Regions from separate parts of the Homo sapiens genome. Here regions 1 and 2 are each linked to region 3. Evidence: fine-mapped expression QTL. A gene starts in region 3. Each other region holds a variant in brackets. All regions are shown on one strand. Distances are from middle to middle.

The links. PIP is the estimated chance that this variant, and not a neighbour inherited with it, causes the effect.
Region 1: its variant is fine-mapped to the expression of ECM2 in cerebellar hemisphere (GTEx, PIP 0.99).
Region 2: its variant is fine-mapped to the expression of ECM2 in skin (TwinsUK, PIP 0.93).

The regions. Positions count from the first base shown.
Region 1 is chr9:91,567,149-91,572,503 of GRCh38, forward strand. No RefSeq gene overlaps it. Among named protein-coding and RNA genes, the nearest start is that of MIR3910-1, 66 kb to the right of the region's middle. RefSeq lists an enhancer at 4,787-5,323. The variant A/G (reference allele first, on the strand shown) is at 2,118.
Region 2 is chr9:92,591,817-92,596,816 of GRCh38, forward strand. All of the region lies in intron 5 of CENPP (centromere protein P), which reads left to right. Among named protein-coding and RNA genes, the nearest start is that of ECM2, 58 kb to the left of the region's middle. The variant C/CT (reference allele first, on the strand shown) is at 3,076.
Region 3 is chr9:92,533,418-92,538,417 of GRCh38, forward strand. It overlaps ECM2 (extracellular matrix protein 2), which reads right to left and starts at 2,573. Exons shown (of 10, transcript NM_001393.4): 1 at 2,516-2,573. All of the region lies in intron 5 of CENPP (centromere protein P), which reads left to right.

The DNA.
Region 1 (5,355 bases), 970 kb before region 3:
TGTATTTTTAGTAGAGATGGGGTTTCACCATGTTGGCCAGGCTGGTCTCGAACTCCTGACCTTAGGTGATCCTCCCACCTTGGCCTCCCAAAGTGCTGGAATTACAGGCATGAGCCACTGTGCTCGGCCAGGTTTTTATTTATGGGGCAATTTAATCACCAATTAAAACTCCTTACTTGATTTTCTATTTCTTCTTGAAACAGTTTCAGTTATGTCTTTCTAGGAATTTGTCCATTCCATTATGGTTCTTGGGTTTGTTTGCATGCAATTGTTTATAATATCTTTCTAATCCATTCAATTTCTTTAGTCTGAGTGATGTTCCCTATTCTGTTTCTAATTTTGGAATTGGTGTCTTCTCTCTTTTCTTCTTAATCAGTCTACCTAGTGGTTTATCAATTCTGTTGATCTTTCCAAAGAATGAATTTTTTATTTCATTGATGTTTCTGTATTGGTCTTTTTAAAAATTGACTTTTTTCTGGTCTGATTTTCATTATTGCCTTTTTTCTTTTTCTACTTACTCTTGCTTTAATTCACTCCTTTTTCTAGGGTTTTGGTTTTTTATGTTTTGTTTTAGTCTGGACACTACAATGAAGCAGGATATTTCCCTGACCTCTCTGTGGGTGGGAACTGGAGTGCACGGGCACTGGAACTAGCCACTACTTCAGCACCGACAGGGCAAACTCCACTTGCTTGAACCTGCTGCGTTCCACCCCTCGTGGGAGGGGGACTTCAGGTGAGCAGGTGCTGGAGCCAGGACGAGCACTTGTGGGCTCTGGCAGGAGCAAAACTCTATGCGGGCCTGCCTCAACATCTGCAAGGGGTACCCATGACCCCTGAAGCCCCAGAGGGAGTGTTACAGTACTCCTTTAGCTCTGCTGTCCACGGGCAGCCTAAGTGTTAACAGCTCAGTCAACCTTCTGCCTTTTCGCCTGAGGCAGCTGCCTCCTGCCAGCGAGGGCAAAGGGTCAGTGTGACAGCCTTTTACATCCACACTCGTGACACCCAAGCTCTTGTCCAGCGTCCAGGAAAAATAAGGTCACATGAACAAATTGAAGGATGGTAAATGTCAGGGATTTATTGCCGATGGAAGTGGCTCTCAGCAGGAAGGGGATCTGAAAAAGGGACAGAGTGGGAAGGTAATCTCCTGATGTCCAGCCTTCTCCGGCCAGATTCTTCCCTAAAGTTACACTATCAAGCTGTCCCTCTGAAGTCAAGCTGCTTCTCTCTGATGTTCAGCCATAGTCTCTGATATCCAGTGGCTTCTCCTCTCTCTGCTGGCTGAGCCTGGGGTTTTTATAGACACAGGATGGGATGGGGTAGGGGTATGGGTGGTTTTGGAAAAGGCAACATTTGATGGGGAAAACAGGGATGTAAGTTCTCACTTTGGGCAGTGGTTTCAGGCTTTTTGGCTTGAAGGTGGGACCCTTGCTGAGCACTCACCATCTTCTGTCCAGAATTTCCCTGCATCCTGTCCCTATCAATCACTACTAGTATGTGTCAAGCATAGAACCCCTAACTTAAGGTCCAAGTCCTGAGGCCAGGCTCAGTTGCGAGGGTAGCATGTGCATTGTGATAAAATCCTACCTCCTGCCTTCAGAGTCAAAGGCTCTGCATCCAAACAGTTTAGAATCTTTCCTATTCTTCTGCCACAGTCAAAAGAGGATCCACAGCCCCGTGTGGCCCTCTCCCTTCTGTGCTCACAACCCTTCAAGGCACCCTGCTGCGGAGTTAAGCACAACTTTTTTTCCTGACCTTGGGCAGCTGGCAGCTCCCCACCCCATGCCCTCACAGAAGCCTAGGGCTTCCCTCTCCAGGATCAGGCATTCCTTCCATCCCCCACCCTCCTAAATTTAGGACAGGGATGCTTTAGTGCCACTGTCTCTCTTCCGGGACTGACCACACTTCATTCCAAATAGGAAAAGATAGAGGGGAAAAAAGGGAGGGGCGGGAGACCTGGATGCTGGAGAGTTACCCCCTACAAGCTGCCCTCAGGGACCAGGTGCCCAATGCCCCACGGACTGCAGTGAACCCAGAGGGAGCCCTCAGTGCCCAGAGGGAGCCCTCAGACCCCTGCTTTGCTTGCCCCCTGGGCTCCATGCCCTTGATTCTCAGGCCAG[A/G]GAGGAAAGGGTCCCTTCCCTCTCACTCTGGCAGCTGGTGGAGGGTAGGATGCAGCACTGAGCCCTTTTTCTAGCTTCTTGATGAGGAAGCTTGTTATTCTTTTTTAAAACTTTCTTTTTTCAAATATAGGAGTTTAAACCTATAAATTTCCCCCTAAGCACTGATGGCATCCTATAAATTTTGAAATGTGGTACTTTCATTTTCATTCAATTTGAGATATTTTTAATTTTGTTTGTGATTCCTTCTTTGATCCATGAATACTTGGAAACTGGTAGTTTAGTTTCCAAATGTGTAACCGTTTTCCATATTTATTTCTCTTGTTGATTGCTAATTTAATTTTTAGTCACAGAACATTTGCATTATTGTAAGCCCTTTACATTTTTTGAAACTTGCTTGATAAGCTAAAAAAAAAAGATCTCCCCAAAGGTATTCATTTCCTAATCCCTGAAACCTGTGAATGTGACACTATATGGAAATAGGGTCTTTGTAGGTGTGATTAAATTAAGGATCTCAAGATTTAAGTCATGCAGCCACAAGCCAAGGAATGCTGCCAGCCTCCAGAAGCCAGAATTTGCCAGGAAGGGATCATCCTCTAGAGCCTCTGCAGGAAGTGCAGCCCTGCTGACTTCTGGATTTCAGCCCAGTAATACTGATTTCAGACTGGAAGTTTGGAATTCTGGAGTCCAGACTTGGGAGAGGATACATTTCTGTTGTTTTAGGCCACCACATTTGTGGCAACTGGTTACAACAGCCACAGGAAACTAATGCAACTCGTTTCATGGCTTAGAATAGGGTCTAGGGTCTATTCTGTAGCACAGCGGTCCCCAACTTTTTTGGCACCGGGGACCAGTTTCATGGAAGACAATTTTCCCACAAACGGGTGGAGTGGGTGTTGTGGGATAGAGGTGGTGGATGGTTTCAGGATGAAACTATTCCACCTCAGATCATCACATATTAGGTTCTCATAAGGAACACACAACCTAGATCCCTCACATATGCCGTTCACAATAGGGTTCGTGCTCCCACGAGAATCTAATGCCACCACTCATCTGACAGGAGGTGGAGCTCAGGCAGTAATGCACACCCGCCGCTTACCTCCTGCGGTGCAGCCTGGTTCCTAACAGGCCACAGACTGGGACTGGTTCCTGCCAGGGGTTGGAAATCACTGCTGTAGGATGTTCCTTGAAGTCCAGGAAAGAATGTGCATTCTGTTTTGGGGTAGCGTGTTCCATATATGTCCCTTAGGTCAAGTTGGTTGATAGTGTTGTTCAAGTCTTCTATACCCTTCTTGACTTTATGAATTGCTGTTCTATCAATATTTGAAAGACTATAATTAAAATCTCCGACTTTATTTCTGCTCTCAATTCTATCAGTCCTTGCTTCATGTATTTTGAGACCCAGTGTTAGGTGCATTTACATTTATAATTGCTATATCTTTCTGATATGTTTACCCTCTTATAATTGTGAAATGCCTTCTCTTCTCTTGTGATTTTTCTTCTTTCAAAATCAGTTTCATCTGATATTAGTATAGCTAATCCAGCTCTCTTTGCCTACTGTCTGCCTAGTGTACATTGTGTCATCCTTTTATTATCTACCTACTTGTTTCTATGAATCTAAAATGTGTCTCTTATAGATAGCCTATAGTTGCATGGTTTCAGGGTGAAACTATTCCACCTCAGATGGAAGTCTGTGACATCTGCAAAAGATGTCCTAGGAGAGAAAGTGGGAGAGAGAGAGAGGGCATAGATTCAATTGTTTCTCATACAGACATGTCTGTAATTTCCACAATTACTGCCCTACCCTGCAATTCAGTTGGTTTCCCAACATCCAGCAGTTCTCCTGCTTAGCTTCTCCAGTGAATAATACTCATCTCATCTATAGGGGCAGTGGTTGGAGGACCTGGAGGAGTGACTTGCCTGAGTGTGGAGGGTGAAGGTGTTCTAGAGTCTGACTGTTCCACAGTCTCCAGCCAGCCCTCATTAATCCAGCTGACCACTGTATGTACTGCCTCAAATTCCTGAGCATTTCACAAGTTCTGCAAGGCAGAACACTCTCTTCCCATTAGCCTCAATCTCTACAGGCACCATGGATTGTAAATTTCTTCCCCCTTCTAAACCAGTTGTATCATCTGATTTTTCTCTCCCAAAAATCTGTTGAAATTCCTTTTTTTCCCCATCATCTTCTGCACATTGCTTCCACCTCATGATCAAAACGACTGCTCAAATTCTGGCTACTACATCTGCATTTCATTCAGCAGGAAAGAGAGGGAAATAAGAAGGACATTCCATCCTCTTAAAGACTCTTCCTGGAAGTTACTTGCAACATTCTGCTACCTTCTCCTTGACCAAGTCCTACCCACATGGCCACACTAAACGCAGTGGAGGCTGAGAAATGTGGTCTTCATTCAAGACAGCATGTGTCTAACTAAAAGTTGTGAGTCTATAGCCAAAGGAAAAGGGAAGACAGAGATTGGTGGACGTTTCTGTCACACTCAAGACAATACAATGTTTCAAAAAAAAAAAAATTAAACAAGCTCATAAAAAGAATGGCTGTTCATTGAAATTACCCACATTAGGCCATCTCAGGTGAGTAGCAACTAATAGTGCCTATTAAGTATCTAATAAATATTTGTCAGGTATTTATTTGTCTGAATGGATGAACCTGAATCAACCATCAGCCTGAGAGAGGGGTGGCTTTCTGTTTACTATGACCCACGACAGGTGACAACATCCATTTTTTTCTTTTACTGAGTTTATCAACAAACAGAAAACCTCAACCTGCTTCTGACATCATATGCCAGCTTTGCATCTTGCTACTATATTATACCTGGTCTTAAACCTCCAGGCACACTAACCGGTGCCAAGTAGAAAGACTGGAGAGAACAAAGAGAAAAATCAGGAAACAGCAAGAAGTCTTTGACTCACATGTACCAACAAAGCCTCTCCCAACACAGAGAAATGGTGATAACGTAATCACAGGCATGCTAGCCATTGTTCCAGTGGACTTGAAGCCAAAGCCGGGATTAAATAAATGGCTGGCATTTTTCAAAGAACCAGAGGCAGCACTGTTTAAAAGAGCTGACAGCTGTGAGATAGAGTATTCTTATTACAGAGGCTTAGCGGGGAGACTTAAAGTAAACCTTTCCACCAGCAGAGCACTCTCAAATGGGAGAAAAAGTAGAAAAGCTCCCTCTATGAGAGCAGAAAAATGCACGAGGATATAGGCATGGTTCTGGGG
Region 2 (5,000 bases), 58 kb after region 3:
AGGAGGCATCTTGGCACTCATCACAATTTTTAAATTATAAATTTAATTTATTTCGTTATTTATTATCTGTCTTTTCCACCAAATTTTATGCTTCATGAGGTCAGGAATACTGTCTTATTTTTTAACTTTTTGTTGAAATATAGACATACATGGGTGCAGCACACCAACATGGCACATGTATACATATGTAACTAACCTGCACATTGTGCACATGTACCCTAAAACTTAAAGTATAAAAAAAAATAGACATACAGAAAAGAGCATATATAGACACATATACATGTATAAATGTATACACTTATACATGTATAAATATATACATTATATAAATGTATACACTTATACATTTATCATGGATATATTTATACATGATAAATATACAGTTTGATAGTTTTTCACAAAATGAACTTGTATGACCACCACTCCGATCAGGAAACAGCATGAGCAGCCCCAGAGCATGAAGCCCCTTCACTCCTTTCCATTCATTCTCCAGCCCAGGGCGAGCACTGCTGGCTCCTGACAGCAGGGATCCACTAGCCTGCTCTAGAACCTGATGTGTATGAAATCGGGCCATGCCTAGTATTCTGTGCTGGCCTTCTTTTGCTCCCTGTTGTTTTTTATGAAGTTCATCCACATTACAATTTTTGATCACACTGTAATTTTCGATCATTCATCTCATTGCTGTATAGTATTCCATTGTGTGGATATACAACAAAGTCTTTATCCATCATACTGTTCCTGGGTATTCCTCAGTTCTGGCTCTATGAACAGTAGCACCATGAGCATTGGGAACACGTGTGCAGATTTCTGTTGGGTGGAATTGCTGAATCATGTCATATACATATGCTCAGCTTTGGTACCTGTTTCCAAACAGTTTTCCAAAGCAGCTGTACCAGTTCACACTCTCACCAGCAGTGTATGAGGGTTCCATTTGCTCACCTGTTTCAACACTGGTTTTGTTAGTCATTTTTAGCCAGTTGGGTGTGTGTGTCATGGTATACCATTGTGGTATTAGTTTGTATTCCCCTGATGATGCACAGTGCTGATTTTGTTCATCAGTATATACCCAGCATTTAACATCATATCTGTGCTTTTTATTAAGGCTCTTTCTATACAAGTGAGAGAGGATGGGACAGAAACCCAACCTAAGTTGGCTTAAACGAAAAGGAACATTAGTGGCTCCTGTAGCTAGCAGAGAGACTGGAGTAGCTCAGACAACCAGAGCTGCTGGCCCCAGGGCTGGAGGCTTCTCTCCCACTGTGTGAGCCTCCCAGCAGCCCTGGCATCATCTGCCCTAAGCATCCACTTCTCAATCCCAGGTGGCAGGAGAGCTGCCCCCGGGGAGCCACACTGTGTGTAAGATGCTGAGAGTGCTGTGATGAGGTGAGCCAGCTCCTGGGCAAAGGTGAGAAGGATTTGTCACCAGAAGAAGGGAGATGAGAAGGCTCACTGGACAAAGAAAAACAGACTTCTGACAGACCACCGTGGCATCACACACAGGAGATACTCCATAATATCATTTTGAATGAATGAATGAGTCAGCCCAAGCTTATGTTGTGCAGGCCACAGACAGGGTGAACCAGAAATATTTTTACTGAAATTACTCTAGGAAAGCAAAGCCGTTTTAGGACAGCAAAGGATTTTCTTTCCTTCTGCCCTCATTTCCCCTAATTCAAGAGCTATTCTATGTTGAAATATGAATAGCTATAAGATGTTTAGCCAATTCATGGATGATCTGTACAGAAATGAATAAATGAAAGAGTGGTGTTTGCTACTCTTCTGTTATCTGTTTTGAGTTTTAAGTCAAGCCCATAATAAGCTGGTTCCTTCCTCCTGCCTGGGCCAACAATGAAAGCGAACAGTGATTAGAGTTTGGCAGAGCTGGTTTATGTGGTCTGTGGCCAGACTACAAGGCGAGTGTTATTTTGGGACCCAAATAAAAACTATAAGTTTTTTTCTTTAAATTCTTTCGGTAAAAAATGGGAGCCACTTATTAAAATAACCAAGCATAATAGTTAAACTGGTAGCAGTAGATAAAGGGAACCCGGTAGAGAAGCCAAGAATATAGGTACACTTTGCTACCTTTCTCACGAATCTCAAAGGTAATATGATATCCTGGATGGGAATCCTGGAACAGAAGGACATTAAGGCAAAACTGAGGAAATCTGAATGAAATTTGGACTTTAGTTATAGTAGTGATGCAGCAATCTTGGTTCATTAATTATAACAAACATCCCACACTAATGGAAGATGCTAATAACAGAGGAATAACAGGGGAAACTGGGTGTGGGATATGTAAGGACTCTGTATTGTCTTTGCAATTTTCCTGTCAATGTAAACTGTTTTAAAAAGTAGTTTAAGAAAAAACCAGGTGAGGGTCTTGGAGGAGCCTGTGCAGGGAGGCTCCTGGAGCTTCAGCTTTATTAGTTTTAGGGTCAGCCCACCTCTGGTCTCCCTCCATTCTTATCAGTGGGATCACGGGGAACCTAAAATTTTCTTGAGAAAGGCACCTTGAGTAGGTGGCCCCGTGAGCAGGTGGCCCAGCTGCTGCTTCCACTTCTGGCTCTGGGCCACTGGTACAGCACGGCGTGTCTGAGCCTTGTTTTTCTTATTTTAAAAGATGGGCATAATTTTATATCTCTGCCTCATAAAGGTGTTATGAGGTGTTAAAAGATCTTTCAACACTAGAACTACTATGCAAATGGAATAAATTATCATTGTCCTTTGGACTACTTTGCTGAGACTTTTCATCGCCCCTCAAGTTTTAAATCTCTGCCTAGTATTCATTTTATTTCATTTTTCCTTAACCATCAGCTCTTGATGTAATACAAAATTTCAACTTAAAATTTCATTTGTGGCCAGGCATGGTAGCTCACACCTGTAATCCCAGCACTTTGGGAGGCTGGGGTGGAGGGATCACTTGAGGCCAGGAGTTTGAGACCATCCTGGACAACATAGCAAGACCCCATCTCTACAAACATTTTTTAAAAACTTTTAAAAATTAAAAAAAGTTTTCATTTATGTAAGTTATTTGTGCCCTATTTTTCTATGTCCTGGATGTGAGAGGTTGCTCTT[C/CT]TTTTTTTTTTTTTTTTTTTTTGAGATGGAGTTTAGCTCTTGTTGCCCAGGCTGGAGTGCAGTGACGTGATCTTGGCTCACTGCAACCTCCGCCTCCCAGGTTCAAGCAATTCTCCTGCCTCAGCCTCCCGAGTAGCTGGGATTATAGGCGCAAGCCACCAAGCGCAGCTAATTTTTTGTATTTTTAGTAGAGACAGGGTTTCACTATGTTGGCCAGGCTGGTCTTGAACTCCTGACCTCAGGTGATCCACCCACCTTGGCCTCCCAAAGTGCTGGGATTACAGGCATAAGCCACCATGCCCAGCCATGTTGCTGTTTTTCTAAGAACATGTGTTGACTTCATGGTTTATTTGTTTATTGATTTTTTGGAGATAAGATCTCACTCTCTCATCCAGGCTAGAGTGCATTGGCACAAACATGGCTCACTGCAGTCTCAACCACCTGGGATCAACTGATCCTCCCACCTCAGCCTCCCATGTAGCTGGGACCACAAGCATGCAACACCACACGCAGCTAATTTTTTATTTTTTGTGGAGATGGGGATCTTACCTTGTTGCCCAAGCTGGTCCTGAACTCCTGACCTCAAGCAATCATCCGGCCTTACACTCCCAAGGTGCTGAGATGACAGGCATGAACTCCCAAGTCTGCTCAGTTTTTTGTTTTTTGTTTTTGTTTTGTTTTTTGTTTTTTTTTTCATGGAGTCTCGCTCTGTCGCCCAGGCTGGAGTGCAGTGGCACCATCTCGGCTCACTGCAACCTCCGTCTCCTGGGTTCAAGCGATTCTCCTGCCTCAGCCTCCCAAGTAGCTGGGATGACAGGCGTGCACCACCATGCCTGGGTAATTTATTTTTAGTAGAGACAGGGTTTCACCATGTTGGCCAGGCTGGTCTCAAACTCCTGACCTCAGGCAATCTGCCCACCTCGGCCTCCCAAAGGGCTGGGATTGAAGGCATGAGCCACCGCACCCAGCCTATTTCCTTCCATTTTTAAAAAACTGAAAGCATTTAACGTAAGACTGTGAAGTACAAGTTTGAACATACATCATTGGCTTTATTTATAAAATATAGTATAAATATTATTTAAACTTTAAATTCTATACCCAAACTATTCATCAAGTATGAGGGAAAAATAAACACATTGTTAAACATGAAAGTCCTCAAAAAATGGCAGATTGAAACATACAGCATTTATCAGGCACCCTGCCAAAACCTTTCTAAAATGGCAGTAAAAAAGGTGTTTTGTTTGTTTGGTTGTTTGTTTTGAGACAGAGTCTTGCTCTGTTGCCCAGGCTGGAATGCAGTGGTGTGATTCTAGCTCACTGTAGCCCAGAATTCCTCGGTTCAAGTGATCCTCTTGCCTAAGTCTTCCAAGTAGCTAGGGCTACAGGCACACACCACCATGTCTAATTTTTAAAAATTTTTGTAGAAATGGGGTCTCACTATGTTGCCCAGACCGGTTAGTTTTTAAAAGACATAAATGCACAGATAAATAGGTAGGGCCAAGCCAAGCCCTGGAGTTCAAGGCCAGCCTAGGCAACATAGTAAGACCCTGTGTCAAAAAAAAAAAAAAAAAAAAAAAAAGAAAGAATAGAAAAATAGGTGGGAAGAAGGCAGCAATACAATATTGGAAGCTAGAAAGTGTGGTATTTGATTAAAACGAGAGAAAGCCTTGAGGAAGGCTGATGTGTTTTATAGAATTCCAATTTGCTCAGAAATGGGAGGCATCAAGTACATTGGAAAGTAGGGACAGGATGGAGAAGAGTTAGTCGGAAGTCCATACGGGAGGCAGAAAGGCTCTCCTACACCCCGACTTCTGTCCCCGCCATGACAGCAGCCATCTATTAATAAAAAAAACGATGATAAGAGCCAGAGAGGTTCTGGACTCTGGGCCCCACTGTGGCTTTTTTTTTATAACCTTCCTCTATAA
Region 3 (5,000 bases):
TTGTTTGTTTGTTTCTCTCTGTCCTCCTGAGGCTGTTTTAAAACTCTATTAATCTTCTCAACCACCTCTTCTGGAATCCAGATGCTTCTAGAAGAAAAACTGTTCTAAACCTCTCTGGGTTTCAGTCCCATCCCAAATATTGGCCCTGTTGTTTTTCTCACCCTTTCTAGTTATTCTCAGCAGGTCTAATGATCTGACTTGCCTTGTCTGCCATTATCAGAAGGAGAAGCTCCCTCAGATTCCTTTTATTTCTTGCAGAAATATATCCTCTTTTTCTCAGAGAATGTTGTAAGTTGTAAAATTCTGTGCTCTTATTAAAGATCTGAAAATGTCATTGTTTAATTGGAAACAGAATTACGGTTTCAAAATCATTCTAATCATTTTTCTTTAATACCTTATAGATATTTGTCCATTATTTCTTATATTTAGTGTTGCCGATGAGAAATTTGACTTGAATCTGATTCTCATCCCTTTGTAAGAAATTTTTTTTCTTTCTATAGAAATTTTTTTCAAATTTTCAACATATCTTTGATATTTGGAAGTTTTACCTTGGTAAAAGAATGGAATGTACCTTGGTATAGGTTGTTTTTGCTGTTTAATGTATCCTTCTTGGGATCTTTTAAACTAAAAACTTCTTTTTTTCCTATACAAGCTCTCTTCACTCTGTTTTCTCCCATGACTGTTCAAGGGTACATTTTTCCTCTTTAAATTCATTTCTGTCTTCTCTTTGTCTGTGAAGGACTCCTCAGAGTGTCTGTCCCACCAGGAGCTCCCCTTTTTATTTCCTAGTGTAGCTGTATATTCGTGCATTTATTTGTCTGTAATATATCTTGTATTATTTCAAGGGAGTTGGTGAGAGGGGAAGAGGGCACAAGGTCAGCTCAGTTTCCCCTCTTGAATCTCAGTACTTCTTTTTATAACTTCATCTGCCAGAATCATCTTCCTCTAGTCAGGTTTCACTTAGTTAGTTCATAGTCTGACTTGCCACATCACCTTTGTTCAACAAACGGCAGTCTCTAAAGTATCTTCATGCCAGCATACAAACCTTTCTTCAGCGTATATATACATTAATTGCCACAGTCATTTGAAAACCATTACTATAGGTTATTGAAATGACCTATATTTCATAGGTTACTGGAACAACTTTTTGAACAACTTTTTGCAATCTACTTTAGTTTTAGAAAAATTAACATGCAGCATGTAAAGAAGGACCAAATCCATTAGCTGATTGGCACCTGAAATCATAAAAGTCAATTCAGAGAGCAAAGTAGTATGTTGGAAGGGAATAACAACAACAGCAGGGGAAAGCAATATGAAAACCTGAACTGAGAGACAAAGTGAAACTAGAATTTGCTGAGTGGCATGGCAAGTGTGCTCTGATGGATATCATAAGTGCTCTGCAATGCATGAAATGTATACATTGAAATTTTCTTGCATTAACAATTGTATGTGCAGACCTTCCATCCTGTTGTGAGGAGTCAGGGCCTAGACCTCGAGGCTCTAGAGTTAAACTCTCATGAGGGTCTCAGGCATCCTGCTGTCCTGAGGCATCCTGAAAGCACTCACTTATGGGGCATTGCCTGATTGAGTGCTTAGGAGTGTGAATGTGCCAGCTGTGGCCATTCTGAGCACACCCCTCTCTCCCAGTATCCTCATTCTGGAAACTACCTCTCTTTCTTTTTTTCCCCCAAATTGACTCACTTTTACTTACCCAGAAATCTAAATAGATAGGCACAGAAATAAACTTACAGAGCTATTTGAATTTTGACAAAATCAGTATCTAAACAGTCTCACTACAGTGTTTAAATACATTTTAGGAAATGGTCTCTCAATACTAATTTTACTATTAATGCTTAGGCCCTCATTATTTTCATTGATATACAGAATTTTGCTTTGCACTTAATATTTGCTTTCATAAACAACTTCGTAATTGAGTGTTTGCCTCCTAGAGGTAAATTTTCTGGGATTCCAATCATAGTATCATTTTTATCAAGTAATTTTTTTCCTTCTAGCACTTACTGTGTTTATCCCAACATTAAATATTATTTATAAACCTTGATTAACTTATTTTTCTTCATTTAAAATTTCTTACCAGTTATCTTAAGTAAACTTTAAAAATATTAATTTAGAATTTTAAAATTCTACATGAAGTCATGAGATGTCTATTATCTATTTTCACTTCATTCAACAGATTTAAAATGAAAAATATTTTGAATTATTTATGTTCTTTTAGGACTTAAAAATTAATAATATTTTCAAACCAATTTATACTTCTATTGAACACATAATTCCACCTAAACATATAAAAATAATTTAATACTAAGTATACAAGGTCTGAAATACTTGGGAAGTACATCGTGAAAAAAACAAACAGAATAATGCATACTTTGAACTTTAAAAATCTATTAGTAACGAGCTAATTTACTCAAGAGTTAAACAGTTGTGAAATAAAATACCCAAATATTAAAACCATTCCACATGCTAAGTAGAAACTTAAAATTTAAAACTTTTTTACCTGGAGATCTAAACTAAGTAGGCTTTGCTTGGTGTCATTTAAGTCTCCAGCTGAAAATGAAACAAAATCAGAGCTTTCTTTAAAAACAAAGAAAGGACAGAAGGGAATGTTGAAAAGTATTTGCTGAACTTCTTAGTAAAATCTAAAATAACTGCCTCCCTTGGGGATAAATGCCTTTCAGTTCTTTGTGCAGAAAATCAGCCAAGAAAGTAACCAGGGAAAATGGTTACCAAGGGAAATATTTTTTTTAATCATAAGAAAAGTAGAAAACAGCAGTGGGTGTGGGGGAAGAGCATTTTGTTTGCAGGCTGAAAAGGCAGAGTTGGAAACACAAAAATGAGCTTGATTAAGAAATCTGTGGTTTTCATAGACTATTCGCATTAAAAATGTTAAAGTTTATACTAGCCAGGATGATGTCACTTGAGCTTTATCAGATTATAGGGATGATATTCTCGTCAGCTAAAGGCTGTGTATATCTGGAATCTATTTTAAATTGGATTAATAATATTTAACTCATCTGCCCACCCACCTCGATCTCACACACAATACTAACAAAACGACAACAACAAAAAAATGGTTACGTATTAATATCAGTGGAAATTATGTAACTTCTAACCATGAAATAATAGAAAGAAAATGTGAAAGGGAGCTGTGTGGCTCCTAATTACCTGTTACGCTGGCAAATTAGTTGTGTACTTTGGCCTCAGTTTCTTTATCTGCAAATGAGAAGTTAGAGACAGATCAGGATTCCAAGCGCAACCCTGCTGTTTATGAGGGACCTTGAGTAAGTTACTTAATGTTTCTGACCAAAGTTCACTCTTCTGTAAAACTAGGGTGATACCTTTCAAATTTTTCTGAAAATAAAAGGAATAACAGATATGAAGGTCCTAACTCAGTGCCTATCCTAGACTAGGTAATTTTAGAACTATTTTTTAAATTTTTTTTTTTTTTTTGAGACGGGAGTTTTTGCTCTGTTGCCCAGGCTAGAGTGCAATGTCGTGATCTCAGCACACTGAAACCTCCGCCTCCCAGGTTCAAGGGATTCTCCTGCCTCAGCTTCCCGAGTAGGTGGGCTTAAAGGCGCCTGCCACCATGCCAGATTAATTTTTGTATTTTTTTTTTTAGTAGAGATGGGGTTTCACCATGTTGGCCAGGCTGGTCTCGAACTCTTGACCTCATGTGATCCACCCACCTCGGCCTTCCAAAGTGCTGGGATTACAGGCATGAGCCACCGCACCTGGCCTGAAATTCTTATATCGTTATTTCAGGGGTCCAAATCATTTGGCAAAGAGGAGCTAAATATTTGTTTAAATGACGTGGTTAGACTGAATCAGGATTTTGTAAAATGACCTAGATAGACTGAATCAAGATAAGGGACTAAATACATAAGCCACTCAACTTCCTAAAAATAAGGAAAATGATATCTATTTTTAAAAATGTAAAACTAGCTGAGTGCAGTGGCTCACACCTGTAATCCCAGCACTTTGGGAGGCAGAGACAGGTGGATCACCTGAGGTTAGGAGTTTGAGACCAGCCTGGCCAACATGTGAAACCCCGTCTCTACTAACAGTACAAAAATTAGCCGAGTATGGTAGCACATGCCTGTAGTCCCAGCTACTCAGGAGGCTGAGGTAGGAGAATCACTTGAACCTAGGAGGCGGAGGTTGCAGTGAGCCAAGATTGTGCCATTGCACTCCAGCCTGGGCAACAGAGCGAGACTACATCTCAAAAAAGAAAAGAAAAGAAAAGAAAAAGATGAGTACAAATGAGCAAACACCATTAAACAGGCAGTTCATAGAAGAGGAAATGTCAGTGGTCAATAAAACAGAAGAGGAAGATTTCTCAATCTCAGTAACAGTCAAGAAAAGTAAATTAAAACAGGAAGGTTATTTTTTCACTACCATAGTGAGATGTTGCTGACAAAACTTTGGGGGTAGAAAAATTACCCAAATAATGCCAATGCTCAATCAAGCTTGAAGACCACTGCTAATCAAAAATCATGGCCTGATTTGAAATACATACATTGTTTTTTGGGGGAAAAAAATGTTGATGATATGCTGTGTTGGCCAGTGTGTAGGGAAAACAGAAACTCTCCTCTTCCTTGAGGACAGCTGAACAGTAGCTATGCTGTCTGTCCTACCATTTCACCTCTAGGAACCCATTGTAGAAACACCTCTTTCTGTACAAAAGTGTGCCTTCAAGGAAGTACTCTGAAGTACTGTAACCATGGATTAGAAAAAAAGTTAACCCAGTTGTGTATAGATAGAGAACAAAGTGGGCTTACCATAAAGCTATTTGGAGAAACAGAAGTAACTCCATTAATACCACCATGCATAGTTGTCCATGCTATACCAGGAATAAAGAGATTTTCAAAACTGTACATGTATTATGATCTTACCTTCTTTTGATGTATGTAATTTAGCATTTTACTAGAGAACAAATTGGAAGGAATAAACAACAAAATATTAACAGTAATTACAGCGAG